Linked DNA regions of Homo sapiens: region 2 is linked to region 1. The links come from fine-mapping of genetic effects on gene expression. Tissue or cell type: whole blood. Region 1 holds a variant in brackets; the other region holds the start of a gene. All regions are shown on one strand. Distances are from middle to middle.

The links. PIP is the estimated chance that this variant, and not a neighbour inherited with it, causes the effect.
Region 2: it holds the start of PLXDC1, and the variant in region 1 is fine-mapped to the expression of PLXDC1 in whole blood (TOPMed, PIP above 0.99).

The regions. Positions count from the first base shown.
Region 1 is chr17:39,098,417-39,106,750 of GRCh38, forward strand. PLXDC1 (plexin domain containing 1) reads right to left here. Exons shown (of 14, transcript NM_020405.5): 7 at 7,438-7,537. Among named protein-coding and RNA genes, the nearest start is that of PLXDC1, 49 kb to the right of the region's middle. RefSeq lists an enhancer at 531-1,132. The variant T/C (reference allele first, on the strand shown) is at 3,995.
Region 2 is chr17:39,148,206-39,155,868 of GRCh38, forward strand. PLXDC1 (plexin domain containing 1) reads right to left here and starts at 3,432. Exons shown (of 14, transcript NM_020405.5): 1 at 3,157-3,432. The coding sequence starts at 3,232. TRC-GCA2-3 (tRNA-Cys (anticodon GCA) 2-3) reads right to left here and starts at 5,600; the gene lies at 5,529-5,600. TRC-GCA2-4 (tRNA-Cys (anticodon GCA) 2-4) reads right to left here and starts at 6,357; the gene lies at 6,286-6,357. RefSeq lists enhancers at 4,936-5,085, 5,458-5,964, 5,965-6,469 and a silencer at 6,346-6,415.

The DNA of each region.
Region 1 (8,334 bases):
CCCTTCAGCGGTGCCCTAACCCCAGCAACTAGGTCCACTTTCTTGTAGTTACTCATTTTCTAAAAATGTTAGTGCCTGCCCACTGGGCTCACTGCTGGGGGCCATAGAGAGCCCCCAAGGAATTCACACCTAGCTGGGGAGGACAATAAGTTCTATGTTAAGAGTATCAGCATTTGTTCTCGCCACCACTAGAAAGAAAAGAAGAAGAAGAAAAAAGTATCAGCGAAGTGCCGGGGGGAAGAAGAGGAAGCCGTGAATTCCACTGCATGGCGGAGTGGTTACTTGCACAGCATCTGACCTGGGCCGCTGGAGAGGGAGAATGGTGCCAAGCAGTAAAAAAGATTGGAGTAAGAGGCGTTTTATACAAGGGGACTGTGTCATACCGATGTGGACAGCCCTTAGCATGTTCAGGGAACCCAGGGGACACAGACCAGAGCTCCCCAGGCAGAGGGCGGTGAGCGGAGGGAGGGTTTGGAAATGCGCCTGCGTGGTTGACTGCACCCAGCTGTGCCCGGCCTTGAATGCCACACTGAGGATTTTGACCTGACCTGTGGGCAGCAAGGAGTCAGAGAGTGATGTGATCGGATCTGATGGTGACAAGGAGGAACAGGAGACAGAGGGAAGGAGGACGAGGCTGGGAGCTGCTGGCAGTGTCTGGGGGTCAGGTGCTGGCTTTCACCTGGCAGGTAGACCCAACACCTCAGCACACAGCACCTGGAGTCAGACTCCAACCGCTCCCACCACCGAGATTTCCTCCTGATCCTGCAGAGCAGACATAGCCTCCCTGCTCTTTCAGGTGGGTTGTGCTTCCCCGCCCCCTTCACCCCTCATCTCTCTGGTTTGCTCTAAAGGGGCTTCTCATTCCAGAATCACAGAGGAGCCTCAGAGGCAGATGCTACCGGGGATCTGACCCCCTCTAATTCACCCTCATTCCACAGCTTGATCAGGCACACGTTTCCTGAGACTCTGCCTGGAAGAAGCCCTTGAGGGAGGTGCAGATGAAACAGACACATCCCTGCCCCGACAGTGGGCTCAGTAATGTACATGGGATGCAGGATAGGGAAGGAAATAAGGCACAGACACCAAGAACAGTCCCAAGAAGCAGCCTGGGGAGTTTGCACACCCCACTCTGTGGGTGTTTGGGGGAGCTGAGGAGGAAAAGATTCCCCTGGGTGGAATGGGAGTGGGTCAGTCTAAGAAAGGCTCAGTGGTGGACTCCAGGATTTAAATGGAGAAGATCTGGACTTGAATTCTTCCTTTCATAGCTGTGTGACCAAGGATAAGTCACTCTACCTCTCTGAACATTTGTGTCCTCATTTAGAAAGGGACAAATGTACAAACTCACAATGTTTGGGGAAGATCCAAGACACTGTCCAGCTTAGTGCATGGGAAAGAGGATTATAATCAGTGTGGTAGGCAGACGCTAGCATGGCCCCCAGAGAGCCTCTACGGTGGCTGCCTGGTATCCACACCCAGGTGCAATCCAGTCCCTGAGCGTAGACTGGATCTGTGACTTGGTTCTAGCCAGCGGAATGTGGCAAAAAAGATAGGATGTTACATCTAAAATTAAGCTATAAAAAGACCCTGGTTTGCGTCTTCCTCGCCCTCTGCTTTTGTCTCGCTTGCCTGCTCTGATGGAAGCCAGCTGCCATATCATGGGGAAGTTTACCAGGCAAGGAGCCAAAGAAGGCCTCCTTGGGGAACTGAATCCTGAATTCTGAATCCTGAATCCTGCCAAACCACATGAAAGCTCTGAAGCCGGTCCCAACCCTCCCCACCTGCCACCCCATCACGGGGGTAACTGTGACCCTGGCTAACACTTTTTTTCTTTTTTTTGAGACAGAGTTTCACTCTTTCACCCAGTGAAATCGTGAGTGAGTGGTGTGAGGAGTGAGGTGGTGCGATCTCAGCTCACTGCAAGCTCCGCCCCTCGGGTTCAAGCGATTCTCCTGCCTCAGCCTCCCAAGTAGCTGGGATTATAGGTACCCATCACCACACCCAGCTAACTTTTGTATTTTTAGTAAGGATGGGGTTTCGACATATTGGCCAGGCTGGTCTCAAACTCCTGACCTCAGGAGATCCCCTGCCTTGGCCTCCCAAAGAACTGAGATTATGGGCGTGAGCCACCGTGCCTGGCCGCTGGCTAACACTTCAGTCGCAGCCTGTGAAAGACCTTGAATGAGAGGTCCTGGCTGAATTGTGCTTTGCTTCCTGATCCATAAAAACTCTGAGATAATATGTTGCAGTTTTAAGCCACTAAATTCTGGAGCAATTTGTTATACAGCTGTAGCTAACTAATGCAACCAGGTGATACGGAGATGATTTAACAACTGGCTCAACACAGGCGTTTACCAACCAGTCAGAGCAGATGCTGCCTGCAGCCATGGAGCCAGGTCCTGGAGCCCAGGCTGTAATACTTGATAGAGGACTGGGAGCGCAGGGGGCTAAGGGGAGGGCAGGAGGGGTCGTGGGAGGTACGAGGGGGCTCAAATCAGCAGCAATTTGCCAACAAGAATGCAAGTATTTCAATATTTTGACAACTGATACAACTGTAGTGGGGTGCACTGACTCTCAGCCCAGGATCTAATATCTAGGGTTGGAAATGGGCCTTAAAGGATAAGGTGATATCCACAGGGCCCCATGGCATGGAGCAAGGGAAGCCACACATTGGAGCTGAAGGAAGAGTTTTCTGCTGTCGCCGCTTGTGTGCAGTTTCAAAGACTGCTCCATACACATATGGCAAAGACAGGAAAACAGCTCTACTAGCTTAAAAACAGTTCCTCGTGTAGCAGCAACATAACAGAGGCACTGAAATATCAGAAACGCGCAGAAGAGTTCAAGGCCGTGTTTGAGAAAGGGAAGGAGGGAGGGACATTCACACGTATCACGTATCGAGTAGGTGCCTGCTGTCTGACAGACACCCTGCCCGGCTTTATATCCAAGTCTAGGCCACTGGGGCACAAAGGCCTCATGAGGAGCCATGTGGTATGGGTGGCAATGAGCCACAGCATCCAGGACAGTTTTGTGGAAGAAAGGAGACAGAGGGCACGGGGCCCTAAAAAGGGAGACGGAGAAGAAGGGAAGGGAGGGTGAGGTGCGAGCCCCACACTTCTGTGGCAGGCTAGGCCTGGGGTACAGCCACCAGCCAACGGGCCCATGGATCAAGACTATAACCCACCCAAATGCTGACCAGGGAGGAGGGATTCCTTATTTGCCGCTTAGCAGTGGGCGCTTTGCCCTCAAGCCACCAGAGCCATTTGCTCCCAGAACCATAAGCCGGGACCACCCTAGTTATGCTGAGAGCTGAATTAGTCCCAAGTAGAAGCAGCAAAAACTTGACCACAAAACTCCTTTCTAGTAGCATATGCAAATCAGATGCCCCTCCACTCCGATGCCCTGCCCTCTGCCATCTCCCTCGATATCATGCAGTGTTGCGTGGGAAGGGTGTCTAGCGGCTGGCCCTACCGAGAGGTGGTATGCTTCGGGGAGCAAGTCTATGCCTGCTTACCAGCTGGGAATGCTGCAGGCAGGCAGATATTGGGAAGAAAGAATAGAAAGGGAGGTTGTAGGAAGGTGGAGGAAGAAGAAGCTGGTGAATTTCTGAAGAGGGGAAAGAACTCCTGGCCTGTTGGGAATTAACCAGGCCCCATTCACCAGCCCCTTGACCCTTGAGTGCCACCCACCCCACCCACAGATCTGCCCAGATGAAGGTGTGGACTGGGGCGAGATGCTTGGTGGGTGCTAACCAGCCTTTACTGGGCACCCCGCCCAAGCCAGGCACAGTGCCTGGTGCTCTGTGCATGGATATCTCAGCTAATCCTCACCACAGCCCTTGAGGTAGCTCGAGGCAACTCATTAGATGGTGACAGCTACAGCCCAGACCTTGCCTTGGGACACACGGCAAGCGAAAGAGTAGGTGACAGGCATGCCCACCTATGAGGAGGGTAAAGTGCCAGAGTCTCCGTGGAACCCACTTTGGCCACAGCTATCAAAA[T/C]TGTAAATGCCCCTGCCCTTTGACCCAATGATTGGACCACTGAGAATATAGCGTACGGAAATACTCACACGGGGGCATGAAAGTACCTACTGTATTATTTGTTATAGCCCAAGATTTAAAACAACTGAAAAGTCTACCCCCAGGGGACAGGTTAAATTAAGGTCCATCCATGGAATGGACTATCAGGCAGCCATTAAAGAGAAGAATGAGGCAGCTCACTGTGTGCTGAGACAGAACAGTGGGCAGGATGTACTCTGTTCAAGTGCAGAAACACTGACATCGTATGCTATCAAATACACACACACACACACACACACACACACACACACACTCACTCACCTGAAGGCTTGCAGCTCTGGAGATAACCCAGAACACTGGTTTCCCCTCCCTTTGCCTCCAGGGAGGAGAGCTGAGAGATGGCGAACTGAGAGACAGGGTTCAGGGGCAGGTGAAAAACCTAATCTCTGTACATCCTTTTATATCTTTTGCATTTTAGACCAGATACACTTATTCATGAAAAAATATAACTTTATAAATGAAGATAAAGAAATGCATTAGTACTTTGGGAGGCCAAGGAGGGTGGATCACAAGGTCAGGAGATTGAGACCATCCTGGCTAACATGGTGAAACCCCATCTCTACTAAAAATACAAAAATTAGCCAGGCGTGGTGGCAGGTGCCTCTAGTCCCAGCTACTCAGGAGGCTGAGGCAGGAGAATGGCGTGAACCCGGGAGGTGGAGCTTGCAGTGAGCTGAGATCTCATCACTGCACTCCAGCCTGGGCGACACAGCGAGACTCCGTCTCAAAAAAAAAAAAAAGACATGCATTACTAAATAAGCTGGGCTCAGTGACCCAGGCCAGTAATCCCAGCACATTGGGCACTGGGAGGCTTGCAGGGGAGGTTAAGTTGAGCCCAGGAGTTTGAGACCACCCCAGGCAACATGGGAAAACCCTGTCCATCTCTCCAAAAAAAAATTTAAAAATTAGTTGGGCATGGTGGCATGTGCCTGTGGCCCCAGCTTCTTGGGAGGCTGAGGTGGGAGGATGGCTTGAGCCCAAGTGTTTGAGGCCGCAATGAACTATGATGGGGACACTGCGCTCCAGCCTGAGACCCTGTCTCTAATAATAATAATAATAATGAATAGTAATTCATGGCTGGGCGCGGTGGCTGACTCCTGTAATCCCAGCACTTTGGGAGACCGAGGCAGGCAGATCACCTGAGGTCAGGAGTTTGAGACCAGCCTGGACAACATGGTGAAACCCTGTCTTTACTAAAAATACAAAAATCAGCCAGGCGTGGTGGCCGGCGCCTGTAATCCCAGCTACTCAGGAGGCTGAGGCAGGAGAATCACTCGAACCCGGGAGGCAAAGGTTGCAGTGAGCCAAGATCGTGCCACTGCACTCCAGCCTGGGCAACAGAGCGAGACTCTGTCTCAAAAAAAAAAAAAAAAAGAATAGTAATTCATGGAAATGGCAAAAATCTCAAAGAGGGATGTGCAAACAAGTAAAGGTAGGGAAACTCTGCGCCACTATAGCATGTGACTTTTTGTCCCTAGTCACAAAAGCTGCATGAAAGTGTGAAAGTGCTGTGGCGGCATCTGACCTGCGACACCAGCATGAGGACACTGCTTGTTCCTAGTCCTGCACTGTTCGCTACAGAACAAGGTGTCCTGCTGGATTATAAAATGCTGAGTTTTAAAGTCTACTGTAGTGAGATATTCTTATACCGGACTCACAGACCTGATGTGCCAGACATTAGGCCCAACACTTTACATACACTATCGCCTGCGTGTTTGCAGCAGCTGTAGGGGCAAAGTATCACTCTTATCCCTATTTTACAGATAAAGAAATAAACGCAGAGAGGTTGAGTGACTCACCAGAGGTCAGATGCTTGTGGAAAGTGTGGACTCCAGCTCAGGCTTCCAGTTCCAGAGCTGAGCCCCTAACACTCCACTGAACTTTGCATATAGAAGGTACTGGGTAAGGCCTTTTAACTAAGCCCTGGTCCTTTCCTTCAGATTAAAAAAAAAATAGATTAAAGGCCCCATTGTTCCCCAACCCTTAACATTTCTGTTAAAGACAGAGGTTTGGGGTGGGGCATGGGGGCTGACGTCTGTAATCCCAGCACTTTGGGATGCCAAGATGGGAGGATCGTGTGAGTTCAGGAGTTTGAGACAAGCCTGGGAAACATAGCAAGGCCCTGTCTCTACAAAAAATAACAAAATTAGCCAGGCATGGTGGCATGTGCCTGTGGTCCCAGCTACTCGGGAGGCTGAGGTGGGAGGATCACTTGAACCTGGGAGGTGGAGGCTGCAGTGGGTAGAAATTGCACTACTGCATTCATCCTGAATGACAGAGCAAGACTTTGTTTAAAAAAAAAAAGGCTGTGCTCAGATACTGAATGCCTCAAGGGCAGATGCCCTTCCTCTTCACTGTATCTCAACAGTGCCTGGAACATAGTGGCCCAGTGTGTAAGCAGGAACTCAGAACACGTGTACTGATGGAACCGAACAGAAATAGGCAATGATGCCTCCCCCGGGAAGCCCTGATTTCACAGAACGGCGGTACCTTGCCCTTCTACAGGAAGGTGACTTGGGGGCTCCCAAGCGTGTCCTTCCGTCCAGCCTGGCATGGCAAGAGTGGAGTTGAGAATGCCCCCAGGCCCCATCAAAGCCCAGGTGGGGTGGGAAGGGCAGACAAAGGCTCCTCCCCAGACCTCCCGGGGTCCTACATGGCAGAACTTGTGCATACGGCTCAGCAGAAGAGGTCAGGTTAAAAAGTCTCTGAGACAAGGGTCTAGAAGGAGCGGCAGTGCATGGGATGCCTGCCGCGCTCCCCAGGAGTACAAATCCAAGACCCTCGTGAGCACGCAATGGGGGTCGGGAGCAGGGGAGAAAGAGCTATGACCTCCTAAAATGTCAGCACTGGAGGAGGGCCTGGGAGGGAGAAGCACTCCTTCAGCTACTATCCCATTTTGTAGATGAGGCAACTGAGGCTAGAGAGATGATGTGGTTTGCTGAAGGACAGGGAGGTAACAGCATGGCCGAGGCTGGATTCCTGTCTCCTGGCATCCTATGATGCTCCCTTTATCACCTGGAGTGGGAAGGCCACAATGGTTGTATTCTGGGAGGACTCAAACCCCTTACTAGGGCATCTTTGGAGGTTTTCTACATAGAACAGGGGCTGAGTGGAAGGGCTGTGGCTCCCTTTCACCTTAACAACCAGAGCAGTGCCTCCCATTGGAGATTTTGCTGGAGAAAATGGTCCCTCTGCTATAACAAAGAAAAGCTGGAAGTCACTGGGCATCCTTTCCTGCCTGGTTTCCCTCTCAACTCTCTGCCCCTTGTCTACTCCCTGCCACTGCCATCCCCCCAGCAGCTCAGGTTCAGTCTGAGCGGAGTCCTACCCCCATCAAGGCCTCTGCGGGGTCCCTGAAGACTCACCTGGCACATCCGGGGATGGATTGAGAATCATGAAGGCATCCGATAGGCCGGTTTTGACAGGATGCTGGGAGGAGCTGATTTCCGGGACAGACATAGGGATCTGCGGCAGGGAGAAGAGACTCCGTCCACCTCCCAAACGCTCTGGGGCCCACCCAGCCCTCCCCTGTGAGCTCCAGACCCATCTTTCTGGATGGCACCACCTCCTGGAGGACTCCAAGACATTGGAAGCCCAGTGGGACCCCACCCAAATTCCAAGTCCTCTCCACACCACCTCCAAGCACATTTTCTTCTTTCCTCTGTCTCGGTGAATGGCACTCCATGCAGGCCGGAAACCCGGGACATACCCTTTTCCCTTCCCTTTCTTTCATTTCTTCCCTTCCCCATCTAATGCATCTCCGAATTCTGTTGCTTAACCTGCTAAGTGGCTCTCAAATCTGTCTGTTTTCCATTTCCCCTCATCCTACTCTAAGCTGCTGTCACCCTTCTCCTAAATTACTTCCCAGTATTCCCTCTAAGCCCCCAACAACCTGTTCTCCACTCTGAAGCCAGAGTGACTTTTCTCAAGGGCAAATCTGTGGTTCCCTTGCCCTGTCCTGCCCCTCACTCTCTCCCTTCCAACCATGCTGCCTTCTTCTATTTTTTTTTTAATAGAGGTGTGTGTCTCACTATGTTCTCCAGACTGGTCTTGAACTTCTGGGTTAAAGCAATCTTCCCGCCTCAGTCTCCCAAAGCGCTGGGGTTATGAGCCACCACCCTGGCTCATCATGCTGCCTTCTTTTTTCTTTTTTCTTTTTCTTTCTTTTTTTTTTTTTTTGAGACAGATTCTCACTCTGTTGCCCAGGCTGGAGTGCAGTGGCACGATCTCAGCTCACTGCAACCTCCAACTCCTGGGTTCAA
Region 2 (7,663 bases), 49 kb after region 1:
CCTTCCCTCCTTTTTTTAAAAAAAGATGGGACCTCGTTATGCTGCCCTCACTATGTGGCATGATCATAGCTCACTGCAGCCTCCAGTTCCTGGGCTCAAACGATCCTCCTGCCTCAGCCTTCCGAGTACCTGGGACTACAGGCGCACACCGCCATGCCCAGCTAATTTTTTATTTTAATTTTAATTTTTTTTTTTGACAGAGTCTTACTCTGTTGCCCAGGCTGGAGTGCAGTGGTGCGATCTCAGCTCACTATAACCTCTGCCTCTCGGGTTCAAGCTATTCTCCTGCCTCAGCTTCCTGAGTAACTGAGATTACAGGCATGCACCACCACGCCTGGCTAATTTTTACTAATATACTAATATTAATAATATTAATAACAATACTAAATATACTAATTTTTGTATATTTAGTAGAGACGGGGTTTCACCATGTTAGCCAGGCTGGTCTCAAACTCCTGACCTCAGGTGATCCGCCGGCCTCGGCCTCCCAGAGTGCTGGGATTACAGGCATGAGCCACCCTGCCTGGCCTAAATCATTTATAGACATGGGGTCTCACTATTTTGCCCAGGCTGGTCTCAAACTCCTGGTCTAAAGCTATCCTCCCACCTCAGCCTCCCAAAGTGTTAGGATCACAAGCATGAGCCACCGTGACTGGTGCAAGCCCCCATTTTATAGACGGGGAAACCTTCCTCAGAGAAAGGAGGAAGCTGTCAGGGTCACCAGTAGTTGGTATTGAGCCTGGCCTCCTGCAGGACTCCCAGGCCAGGATGCCAACTCTCGCTGCCTCTTCTTTATCTGTCATATGCACCTCTGGTTCCATCTGACCAGACTGTCAGTTCCCTGGGCCCCTGCTCTGCACCCCAAGGCCATTTTCCTGTCTGTCATCCTGGTCTCCCCTGCTGTCTGACTCTGTCTTTGGGCCACTCATCTCTCTGCTGCTGCTGTTCTAATGATAGATGAGGTTTCAAGGCTCTACCAAACAAGCCTGTCCATCAGGAGCGAGGGGAGATCTCAGCTACTTCCCAAGGCCCCCCACCAGCCCCACAAACCCAGAGCCTTGGGGAAGGATGCTAGCATCTCTTCAGGTCCTGCTCCCAGCTGCCCTTCCACTGGTCACAACAACTCCGCCATCAATCAGGTCAGGCTGCCCCTCCTTAGCAACTCTCCCCCAGAACGTCCTTCTCCTACATCTGGCCTCCCCAGACACCCGCTTCCTCCTCATAGGTCCTCCTGCCTGTGAAATCCCACCTGGCCTGTGAAAAGGGCACCGGACTGGGAGTCAACAGCTGCCGCCTCTGGCTTCTTACAGATTCCTTAAGTCTAACCTCTATCCCTCCTGCTGCAGAAAAAGTGCATTTCTCCTGGCTCAATCTCTGTCAAAGCCAAGAAGACAGGATAGCCTCTACTTAGAGAAGTGATTCAAGTCTCTGCCTGCCCCACTCTTCCTGGTCTCCTCAACCGTCTACTACCCCAACCCTACTCTGAAGGGGCCGCCCTCAGCCAGGCCCGGGTCTGGCCACTATCTCCCAGCCCATCCTTGTTACCTCCCAATTCCCCCTTCCCCAGCCCTCTCCGTGGTTCACACAATCCAGCCAAAGGTTCAGATCCTCCCCTCATAAACTCTGTTACACCCAGAGTTCAGAAGATCACACCAGGTTGAGGATTCAAAGGAGCCCAGAAATTATTCATAACATATCCAACTCTCTCCTGTTTACCTTGATTTTTTTAAAGTATCAGTTACCCATAAAGACCCTAACAAATATGAAAAGGAAAGGCAATTATAAAAGATCCTTCATTATTCCACGCACAAGAGTCAAAGATTTTGCCAACAGCCTCACTTTATAAATGCAAAAATAGGTCCAGAGAGAGAAAGTAACTTGTCTAAAGTCACACAGCAAGTGAGATGGCGGGACTAGAAGCCACGTCTCTGGCCACCCTCTGTGTGGTCTCCCTGAAAATTGGTGGTTCTCACCAGCAGCTTCTCGGTTCGTCAGCTCCACTGCCCTCTGCCCATACTTCCCACTGTCAGCCTCCTTCCCCTCCCACCCCCAACATACTCTTCTTCTCAATAGGGACCCAGGTCTGTCTCAGCTACATGCTGGGACCATTAAAGTCAAGAACATTGCCACTGACACTGTGCCTGGTGCCAGCACACTCCTGAGACACAGCAGGTCAACCACAGCACTCACCTCAACAGCGCCTCCCTCACCCCACCTGAGGGGCACCCATGCCAATGATGCACAGGTATCTATCTTCTTAATCATCTCTGCTGAGGGGCCAGGCTGCAAATTACCCATCTCCCCAACCCCAGAGAAAGTCTAGGTGCTTAGGGGAGAACAGAGACTATGAAAATTATACCATGAGGGATTCCAGGTAGATCTCAGAAAGGACTTCCAGGTGGGAGAGATGAGTTTGGAGAACTGGTAGGGGGGAAGAGGAGTGTGCAGAATGGGACGCCTCCCTCCACCCCCTACCCCAGTGCCCCATCTAGAGCCAGAGTAGCTGAAAGCCAAAGGCTGCCAGGGCAAATGGGAGCAGGTGTGAGGAGGGGGACTCTTGAGGCTGGGGGTGCAGAAGCAGCAAGTTGCTTCTTCCTGGGCCCACTGCCTCTCTACTGACACCAAATAGGCAAGGGAAGGTGACCGAATGGCTGCTGCCTTCCCAGGCAGAGACGCTGTGTCCCCACCATCCCCCTGGCTGCTCCCACCTATCCCTAGCCTGGATCAGCTTTGGGGTCGGGGGTGTGGCAGAGAAGAGGAAAAGAAGGCATGGCTGGGGCAGGGGCCTCCCCAGGCTCCCATCTCATCAGAATTCAGCCTTGCCTGGGGTGATCAGGGGTCCTGATGACTCTCCCGCTGTCCCCTTTCAGAGCCCATGGCCACATAGAGCCCCCTCTCCTAAGGTCCCTCCAGTATCCTTCCAGGAGAGAAGGAGAGGTCCGGGCATCGGTGTCTCCACCGTCACTCACACACCCTATGTGTTTGGGAAAGTGGGGTCCCTATCCACCTGCCCACAGCCCACAGCTCTCCTGGCCTCCTGCGGACAATGCCCCCCTCGCGGACATCGCCAGGCCGTCCACACCTGCCCATGCCCACACCTGACTGCCCGTCCCTCCCCGCCCCCGGCCCACCCGGGCCGGCTCCCGCCAGTCCTACCTGCTCCGGGCTGGGGGCTCAGCGCCCGGGCAGCCTCCCTGAGCACCAGCACCAGGAGCCAGAGCTCGCCTCGCATGGTGGGTGCCCGGACCTGCCCCCGGCCTGCTTGCTGCCCCGGTCCTGACGAGGGAGGGGGCCCTGGCTCAGGCTGCGGCCGCGCGGTCCCCGGGGCTGGCGGAGGGGCGGGCGGCGAGGAGACGGCGGAGCGCGGGGCCGGGCGAGCCGGCAGGAGCGGCGAGAGCGCGAGCGGAGCTGGAGGCTGCGGCCTCCGGGAGCAGGCGGGGAGCTGGGGGGGCCGCTGGGTCGGTGGGGGTGGGGGGGAGCTGGGGCAGGGGGCGGGGCGGGGGGCGCGGCGTCGTTGGGGGCTCTCCCGGCGCCTGCCCTCAGCCCTAACGGAGCGCTCCCCTAGAGCTCTGCAGCCGCTCCCAAGGCAAGGGGTGCAGAGTAGGGGACAGGGCGGGAGCCCCTCGGGCTGAGAGAACCCCTAGAAGCATCAGCCGCCCCGCGCTCCTCACTGAGCTCCTGGCTCCCTTTCCCTCCTCCGTTCCGCCGGGAAAGCTGCAGAGAGAAGGCCCGAGGACTGGACCCCTGGAAGGGACAGGCGCCCCATCCCTGGGTCACGGGCCCCTGACTGTTCCCCGCCCCCAGCTCCTCCAAGCTCTGCGACTTCCTGAGCTGTTCTTCGGAATTCTGTGCGTCTCTGATGCTTTGTCCTCCAGCCCCCACCCCCAGAAATCTCCCCCTGCAGCAAAGACCCCCAGCTTTTCTCCCCAAGAGGGGCCTGAATCCCACCCCCCTTCCATGACTCCACCTTATCCCTCCACCCCCCATTTCCAGCACCGATTTGCCCCCCAAGCCTAGCAGACGTGAGGGTGGAGGGGGCCTGGCTACCCCTTACTCTGCAACAGTCTGGACCCCTCCCCACGAGTAGGTAACCCAGGCCTCCTGCCTCTCTGGGGCCTCCAGGCCTACTCAGGGCCAGACCCAATCAATCTTCAGAGCCAGCCCCAGACGAGGAAATGGCTCACCCCACCTGTCACCACCTTCTGACAGGCTCTGGGGATAGATAATCTTTTTATTTTTTCTTCCAGGACAGAATAAAAATACCCGCAATGTAGGATATTTAATAGACGGCAAGGAATCAGGTCAGGACACGAAGATGCCTCTTCCCTCCCCTGACCTACTTCGTTCTTGTGACGGCAAGGAGCTGGGGCGCTGGAGAGTGGGAGACGGGGTGAGGGGGCATCCTGGCTTCTAGTGGGCTGGGGCCTAGGGACTAGAAAACCGCGGAGAGGAAGGGTGCGAACGCTGAGCGCCATTGGAGAAATTTTCCAGGAGGAGGGATATGGGCGGGGACAGGAGAAGGTACACTGTGGGCTGGAAGAGACGGATTCCGTGGCACTGAGGTTAAAAAAAAAAAAAAGAAAAGAAAAGAAAAAAAAACACCTAAGAAAGGAAACAACTAAAGGCTCTCTAATCTCTTAGAACGCCGGTTCCTCCTTCCGCCGGGCCCAGAGTCCCAGAGACTACCTCCTCCAGCCCTAAACCCAATGTCCCCTTACCGTGGAACAAGGCAAGGCCGGTCTGTAAATTCTTCTTGATGTCTAATTTAAATCCCAACTTGGCGGACTCTCAAACAGAATCAGATAGGCAGCTACCTCCAGCTGCAGCTACTTGCTGCCCTCAAGTGGCCACGTGACGAGCCACAACCCTCTTGTCCTGCGGGTTTCCTCTTTCCCCAGCCTGCCCACCCCCTGTCTCCGACCTCCTGCCTTCCTCGAGGTCAAGGTGAGAAGTCTCGGGACGGATTCCAGCTCCAGCCCCGGCGTCTTTGCACATTCCTCCATCTGGGGTACCTCGTGGTCTGTCTTACAAGAAGAGCTCAGGCTGAAACATAAACTTGTAAATAGTAGAAGCAAATGTGTAAATTTTAACGTAAGCCTCTAGAACTTGAGATCGTAATCACCTGCAGGGTGTGTGTGTGTGTGTGTGTGTGTGTGTGTGTGTGTGTGTGTGTGTATTTTGTTTGTTTTTTGAGACAGGTTCTCGCACGTTGCCTAGGCTGGAGTGCAGTGCTGCGATCATAGCTCACTGCAGCTTCCAACTCCTGGACTCAAGCGATGGGGAGCGTATATGAAAACACAGATTTCTGGACTCCACCCTCAAGTTTCTAATTCATTAGGTCTGGGATGAGGCCCGAGCGTACCCAGGTAATGCTGCTGGTCCCAGGACCACATTTTGAGAGCCACTGCTGTTGAATCCCCAGTTCCTTTCAGTCCCTCACTGCTCCTCGTCTGCCAGTAGGAGTAAAAGCAAACAGCTTAGGAAAAATCGACACCCAGGACAAAAACAGTATCTCGAAAAGGCCAAAGAGGGGGCACCCGGATTTGAACCGGGGACCTCTTGATCTGCAGTCAAATGCTCTACCACTGAGCTATACCCCCTCTGCCGGCAAACCGACCGCACGTAGTCGTTTAGTGGTATTGCTGCGCAGGCGCTGTGTGGCGTTCCCGAAGGGAAGTGGAAGTGGGGTAAGACGTTTACAAGAGATGGAAAAAATACAACTCCCAGAAGAATTACTCACTTGGAAGCAGGGGTTGTTCCCTGAAGCTCTGAGCTGAAGATCCCCACTGGCAGTATAAGAAAATATATTCCTGGGGTGTGGAAGGAGAAGTCTCTCGAAATATTTCACTTCGGGGGCGTCCCACTCTCCTGCCCTGCAGAAGACCCCTTGCCACGTCTCGGAGCTTCTTTCTCCCTCCCACATGCTCACGCGGCTTCTCCCGACCTGTCTTCCCCAGCCCAGCCCTTAGAAACTCAGCCTCCTTCCCGCCAAGAAAGAGCCAGGCTGACCTGGGGGTGCGCTCGCCTCCGCCCTGCCATTGCGAGGTTGAGCCACCCGTACCGTGTTCCAAGGGTCAGCCCGGAGCTCCTCGCCCTCACTCGCATTGCATTCTACCCTGGGTACACACACAGGCTGAGCCACTGGCAGGGGCCAGGACTCCATCCTCACTCGCCTGCGAAAGCAAAAAGGGTGGCAGGGCTCGAGACTCCCTCCCATTCCATCTGTGCGGGAACTCTTTAGAGGACCTCCGGAGACCAACAAAACGAGGTAACTCCGGAGCACAGAGGGGGCACCCGGATTTGAACCGGGGACCTCTTGATCTGCAGTCAAATGCTCTACCACTGAGCTATACCCCCGCCACGCCACTACGTTGTCATTAGAGTTAATTTCTATGGAATAGGGGTGTGGTCTTCATTTTCCCTTAAAGTTTTAATCTGAGGGTTGCGTCGGGATACCTACTGAAAAAAACACAAAATACAATGGGAATGGCTAGAACTCCTGAGTTCTTCCTTCATAGCCACGCTTTCGGAAAACCAACTAGATTAAGGAATCTTGGGCCGAGAGCGGTGGCTCACGCCTGTAATCCCAGCACTTTGGGAGGCCGAGGCGGGTGGATCACAAGGTCAGGACATCGAGACCTCCTGGCTAACACAGTGAAACCCCGTCTCTACTAAAAATACAAAAATTAGCCGGGTGTGGTGGCGGGCGCCTGTAGTCCCAGCTACTCGGGAGGCTGAGGCAGGAGAATGGCGTGAACCCTGGAGGCGGAGCTTGCAGTGAGCCGAGATCGCGCCACTGCACTCCAGCCTGGGCAACAGAGCGAGACTCTGTCTCAAAAAAAAAGGAATATTGGGTCCTCTATATCCGTGCCTAGACTCTCCCCCAAATGTCCACTGACTGGCTTGAGAAAAGGACTGTCCCCAGGACCGCCCCAGGTCCAGGGATGTACAGATGAACAGACTGGATCTCCATCTTGTCTCCTGGGCTTTTCCAACCCCAGGGTCGCTCCTCCCCTTCTCTCAAACCAAAAGCCAGTTTGAGGAACAGACAGAGGAGAAGGCTGAAATAAGAGGTAAGCATTTTTCAATAGCATTTACTACAGCCTTATAAAAATCCTAATACAGTATTTTTTTTAAAATCCTGGCCGGGCGCGGTGGCTCGCGCCTGTAATCCCAGCACTTTGGGAGGCCGAGGCGGGCGGATCACGAGGTCAGGAGATCGAGACCATCCTGGCCAACATGGTGAAACCCCATCTCTACTAAAAATACAAAAAAATTAGCAGGGCGTGGTGGTGCGCGCTTATAGTCCCAGCTACTCGAGAGGCTGGGGCAGGACAATCGCTTGAACCCGGGAAGCGGAGGTTGCAGTGAGCCGAGATCGCGCCACTACTGCTCTCCAGCCTGGGCGGTAGAGCGAGACTCCAACAATAACAACAACAACAAAAATCATTACACAAAGACAAACAAGCAGCCCCTTTAGGAATCTGGTATATTTGGGAGGAGTGGGATTCAAATTGGAAGGACACTAGAAGTAAAGGGGATGCTGTGGGGTGGCTTAAAGTCCAAGAGCTGTGGTCAGAGTCAGCATCTCAGAGGGAATGGGAAGACGAGGAGAAGTGGAATCCCTGCAGTGCAAAGGGCTGTCCCTATCTGGGACGTCCTG